Linked DNA regions of Homo sapiens: region 2 is linked to region 1. Evidence: fine-mapped expression QTL. A gene starts in region 1. The other region holds a variant in brackets. All regions are shown on one strand. Distances are from middle to middle.

Evidence for each region.
Region 2: its variant is fine-mapped to the expression of ENTR1 in whole blood (INTERVAL, PIP above 0.99).

The regions. Positions count from the first base shown.
Region 1 is chr9:136,409,226-136,412,091 of GRCh38, forward strand. ENTR1 (endosome associated trafficking regulator 1) reads right to left here and starts at 1,389. Exons shown (of 10, transcript NM_001039707.2): 1 at 1,103-1,389; 2 at 865-1,014. The coding sequence starts at 1,172. PMPCA (peptidase, mitochondrial processing subunit alpha) reads left to right here and starts at 1,433. Exons shown (of 13, transcript NM_015160.3): 1 at 1,433-1,514; 2 at 2,772-2,866. The coding sequence starts at 1,444. RefSeq lists enhancers at 492-651, 1,502-1,591, 1,622-1,671 and silencers at 1,012-1,061, 1,202-1,291.
Region 2 is chr9:136,516,938-136,519,833 of GRCh38, forward strand. It overlaps NOTCH1 (notch receptor 1), which reads right to left. Exons shown (of 34, transcript NM_017617.5): 5 at 2,506-2,628; 6 at 1,654-1,887; 7 at 1,200-1,355; 8 at 815-1,000; 9 at 335-448. It overlaps MIR4673 (microRNA 4673), which reads right to left and starts at 2,689; the gene lies at 2,631-2,689. The region is part of intron 1 of LOC124902310 (a long non-coding RNA gene); the gene reads left to right. The variant G/C (reference allele first, on the strand shown) is at 1,496.

The DNA.
Region 1 (2,866 bases):
GCTGGAGTGCAGTGGTGCGATCTCGGCTCCCTGCAAGCTCCGCCTCCTGGGTTCACGCCATTCTCCTGCCTCATCCTCCCGAGTAGCTGGGACTACAGGCACCTGCCACCACGCCCGGCTAATTTTTTTGTATTTTTTGTAGAGACGGGTTTTCACCCTGTTAGCCAGGATGGTCTCAATCTCCTGACCTCATGATCCGCCTGCCTCGGCCTCCCAAAGTGCTGGGATTACAGGCGTAAGCCACTGCGCCCGGTCAGCCGAGAAAACTTTAAAAAAAACACAAGCTCCCAGACTTGTGACCCTGGAGATGGCCTGACTTGCAGACTGGCCCTGGTGTCCGTGGTCTGAAAGCGGCTCCTCAGCAGATTTTGAAGCCCAGCCGGGGCAAGCGCGTCCTCTTGTCTTGTGACAACCCCCGAATGTCCTCAGATCCTGGCATAACCACACAAACACTCCTGCACACCCCGGGCACCCAGCAGCACTTCTGCTTGGGTAGAACGAGGACGAACCAGATCTGGCCACTGCCCGGCTGTGGAGGCAGATGGAATGCTCCAGCTCGGTTTCCAATCACTGCCCACTAGGTGAAGGCACCCCGACTCCAGCCCCACGAGGAAAGCGGGCGGGCTCCTGTGCTCCCCGGGCACTAACCATCCTGTACTGGAACTGTCTGTCTTGGGGGAGGTCTCCCCGCAACCAGACTGTGAGCTCCTAGCAGGGGACTCCGCCTTTGAATTCCGAGTGCCTGGCACGCAGTGAGCGCTCTGCACATTGATGGGTCAATGGACGAGCTCGTGCTGCAGCGGAGGTGCCACACGTGGCGCGGGAACTGGAAGCGTCCCCGGGGCCGGCGCCCTCGTCTCTCACCTGTGTCTCCCACGGAAGCCAGCACCGGGCTGGGCACATAGCACATAAAGGCCGGCCGAATGCCGAAGAAGGGGGAGTCCAGGTCCCTGCCATGGGGGCGCTCACAATTTAGCTGGGGGAGACAAGACCGGCGCTCATAGAACGCTGGAGCTGGAAGCAACGACAACAGCGACTTTACTGCGTGCCGGGGCGGCCGCCGCCCACCTGGACCGCTGGACTCGGCCCCTGCCCCGCTCACCGTCGGGAATGGCGAGGCTCCGGGCTCGGGACAGCGGGGTGGCGCCCGGGCGGCGCTGGTAGCCCGACATCGCCGCCGGCCCGGCGGGGCACGACCTGCCTAGCCCGGCAGCGGCGGCTCCATGGCCCCGGCTCCGCCCGTGCCGCGGCCCGCGTCGCCCGCCCCCGTCGCCCGCCCCCGTCGCCCGCCGCTCGGCCGCCCCCGCGCCTCCGAGCCTCTCGCCGCTGCTTCCGCTCCGAGCACCGAAAGCGCGTGCCTGAACGCCTTGGGCCGTCGGCGAGGGGGAGGGGAAGCCGTGGGCGGAAGCGGAAGTGACGACTGAAGCGGGGCGGAGACGCAAGATGGCGGCTGTGGTGCTGGCGGCGACGCGGTTGCTGCGGGGCTCGGGTTCTTGGGGCTGTTCGCGGCTGAGGTGAGCCAAAGGCGAACCAGGCTTCGGCCTGGGGCGGGGGCGGCTCGAGTCTTTCTGGACGCTCCGTCTTCGGTTTCTACAGGTGACATGGCGCCCGTGGGACGGGCTCGCACTTCGGGACACTGGTGTCCCCGAGGCGACGGGGGCCCTGCCTTGCTTTGCGCCTCGAGCCCGGGGACGCAGTCCCATCTGTCTCTCCTCTCCCCGGCTGCTGGGTCCTCTCCCCCCCTCACTTCCCGGGTCGACGGGCCTTCTCCGAGGCCATGCCTCATATTTGCCCCCGCGCTTCACCTACCGCGTGCTCCTTCAGGAGGCTGAGCCGGTGGGGGCCCAGCTCTGTTAGACCCGCAGGGTTCTGACACCAGGGTCCAGGCTCTCGGTTGCTGCGGTCTGTCCGTTGATCTCTGACGTTTAAGAACCCTTTCCGTACCCACCGCTCCTCCCACCCAAGTGACCGGGCCTGCCTTTCCCCACGCTGGAACTTTGTTCCGACAGCACAGGCGTCGCCCCTCCCCACACAACGAGCGCCGTTTCAGGGGTGCGGAGGTGCTGCCTCCAGGAGATGGATACAGGCTGGAGCGTAAACAAAATATCGGCAGTCGCGTAAATGCTTTGGAGTAAACAAGCAGCCTTTCATGATAGAAAATAGCAGGAAAGACTAGACTGGTGAGGGATAGTCCTCCATCAGGGTGACATTTAAGGGAAGAGCTGAAGAATGAAAGAAGGGGTAGGCATGGGCAAAGGGCAAGCCCTGGAACGGTGAAGAAGCTTTGGGGTTGATGAGTCAAATGTGTTCCAGGAATTGACAAGAATCAGTGTGACCAGGACCTATGGGAGTGTGGGGGTTCAAGAGATGAGTTTGGAGAGGGAGACAGAGGCCAAGTCACACCCCGCCTTCGGACCAGGTTAATAAGGGATATGGCTTTTATCCAAGACTTCGGTGGTGCTGTTGGAGGGCAGAGCTGTTAAGTGCTTTATGTGTACAAACTGCACTTAGAGTGAGTTACTGTTAATAAGCCCTGTTTTTACAGAGATAGCAACTAAGACCCAAAGGACGGAACCAGCTTGCTCCAGGTCCCGTGGCTGAGCCTTTGTTGTCAGCCTCTGCTTTGTCTTCCAAAGTCTGTAGAAATAAGTCCTGTAGAAAGGCAGATGCTCACTTTTAACCCAGACAAAACATAACTAACCGCACCTAACAGGTCATCACAGGTTTGTTGTCTCAAGCCTGTTGTAACTGGGCCGCTTTCTCTGTTTTAGGTTTGGACCTCCTGCGTACAGACGGTTTAGTAGTGGTGGTGCCTATCCCAACATCCCCCTCTCTTCTCCCTTACCTGGAGTACCCAAGCCTGTTT
Region 2 (2,896 bases), 110 kb after region 1:
CGGCCCAGGGGCAGGGGACACAACCTACGGCCAGGCACCCCTCAGGAGGCCGGGGTGCAGACGGCCCAGGGGCAGGGGACACAATCCACGGCCAGGCCCCCCTCAGGAGGCCGGGGTGCAGACGGCCCAGGAGCAGGGGACACAACCCACGGCCCTCACCCCTCAGGAGGCCGGGGTGCGGACGGCCCGAGGGCAGGGGGTGGGGGCGGCCCTCACCCCTCAGGAGGCCGGGGTGCAGATGGCCCGGGGGCAGGGGACACAACCCACGCCCAGGCACCCCTCAGGAGGCCAGGGTGCAGACGACCCGGGGGCAGGGGGCGGGGGTGGCCCTCACCCGTGGGGCACTCGCACTGGAACTCATTGATCTTGTCCAGGCAGCGGCCATTGTGCAGGCAGGGGCTGCTGGCACACTCGTCTGTGTTGACCTCGCAGTGCACACCCTCGTAGCCTGTGGGGTGGGGCAACAGTGAGGGGGGCACGCGCGGCCCCAGTGCCCCACTGGGCACAGCTGTGGACTTGGGACAGAAACGAACCCTGCCTCCAGCCCAGTGTCCCAGCCACCACGGGCCCCCTGCGCACCCGCTCCCCTGCAGCCCGTGGCCCCTGGCCCGGCACCCTCATCTGCCTAGCACTGCCCCCGTGCTCTGCTGGCCCTGTGGCCTGGCCTCAGTTTCCCCATGCCCTGTGCAGGCTGTGGGCCCAGAAGGCATGGAGGCTGGGGAAAGCGGAAGCAACCCACAGATGTTCCCGGGGCTGCCCCTCCAAGGCTGCCCAGCCTCGACTCGGTTTCCCGCCCTGGCCCCGGCCGACGCACCGGGCATGCAGATGCACTGGAACTCCCCAATCTGGTCCAGGCAGGTGGCGTCGTTCTGGCACGGGTTCGAGACGCACTCGTTGACGTCGATCTCGCATCGGGGGCCCGTGTAGCCCTGCAGACACTGGCACTCGAAGGAGCCCAGCGTGTTGATGCACTTGCCCGCATGCTCGCAGGGGTTGGCACCTGGCGAGGGCACACGGGTGAGAGGCTGCTCCAGGCACCCTGGCCCCTGCAACACCTCACTGCACACCACCCCCATCGGACTGGCAGGGTCCCATCCCCCATCTAACTGGGCACCCCCTGAAGCCAGAATCGACTTCTCATCGGTTCTGGGGCCAGGCTGCCACCCCCACCTGGCCGCACCCCCTGTGCTGGCACCTACCCAGCGAGCACTCATCCACGTCCTGGCTGCAGGCCGGGCCCGTGTACCCCGAGGGGCAGGTGCAGATGGCCTTGCCATTGACAGGGTTGGTGTCGCAGTTGGAGCCCTCGTTACAGGGGTTGCTGATGCATGCGTCGTTGAGGTGGCACAGCAGACCTGGGCAGGCAGCGGCGGTCAGTGGGCACGGCCCCTGGGCCAGGCATGGCACACCACCCACGGCTGGGGTCCAACCCCACTGACACCCCAGGAGGAGCTGCCCGCCGTGACCCCGTCGGGCATCCCGTGACACTTGGGAC[G/C]TTCCGGGGGACTCACAGCGACCACCGGCCTCCCTGACCAGAAAGGCCCTTTCAGGTTATCCTGGGTGCAGGAGGGCCACAGTCCCTGGGTGAGGTCACACAGCTCAGGCCTGGCCCATGTGAGCCCCCTGCGCCCACCTGGGCCTCAAGGCACTCACCTGTGCGGCCATGGGGACACTCGCAGTAGAAGGAGGCCACACGGTCATGGCAGGTGGCGCCGTGGAAGCAGGCGGCGCTGGCACAGTCATCAATGTTCTCGCTGCAGTCCTCACCAGTCCAGCCGTTGACACACACGCAGTTGTAGCCACCGTGGGTGTTGTGGCAGGTCCCGCCGTTCTGGCAGGCATTTGGCATCAGCTGGCACTCGTCCACATCCTCGGTACAGTACTGACCTGCAGGGAACAGGAGCTGTCGGCCCCGGGCAGCTGCCACTCCCTGAGCTCCCTGTCCCCTAAGACGCAGGGTGGCAATGCCGCCCCCTCCAGGAAGCCTTCCTGGGCTGACTCCTCCACCCACCGCCAGCCTAAATCACTCCTTCCTCTGCAGGCCCAGCACCATGGAGTCTTGCCTCCTCTTTGTGCTCTGTGGACACTGCTGCGTCGGGGTGCACCTTTGCCCGTCACCCCACCAGAGGGTAATTCCCGAACACAGGGCCTGTCTGTTCATCCAGGCATCCCTGTGACTGGCCCAGGAAGCGTGGCCTGAGTGGGGTGCTGAAGGCCCTCAATGCCAGGACACCCCACTGGGCACAGGGGCTGCCTGGAGCCAGGTTGCAAACGGCCCACACAGACCAACCAGGGCCCTGTCTGTGCTGACCCCCGAGGTGAGGGGCACCAGACCCTGGCCACGGGAAGTGGGGCCCCCATCATGTTGTCCTTCTCGGCCAACCCTAGTCTGCCTGGCCTGGGACAGGGTCTCGGCTGCTCCCCGCTATGCCTGTGAGTGCAGTTTAGTAAGTGGGTAGCAGCCCCGCCCCGGCTACCCCGCCCTGCGGCGACCCGTATACGCGCCTGTCCACTCTGGCGGGCAGCGGCAGTTGTAGGTGTTCACGCCGTCCACACAGGCACCCCCGTTCTTGCAGTTGTTTCCTGGACAATCGTCGATATTTTCCTCACAGTTCTGGCCGGTGAAGCCTGCCGCAAGAGGGGCCGGGTCAGCCTCTTCCCTGAGGTCCAGTCCGGCTCCTGCCTGGACCCCCGACACACTGCTCTGGACACAAGAGCCTGGCCTCCACGGCCCTGCCCTGGGGCCCCCGGGGTCTGTGCCCGTCCCCTGCCTCACTCCAGTGCCCAGAGGGACACGCCCTGCTTGAAAGAATCATTTTGGACAGGACTGGCTAAACAGGGACTCAGGAACACAGGGTTCCAGAAGATTCTGTCACAAAAACCCTTGGGTCTCTTT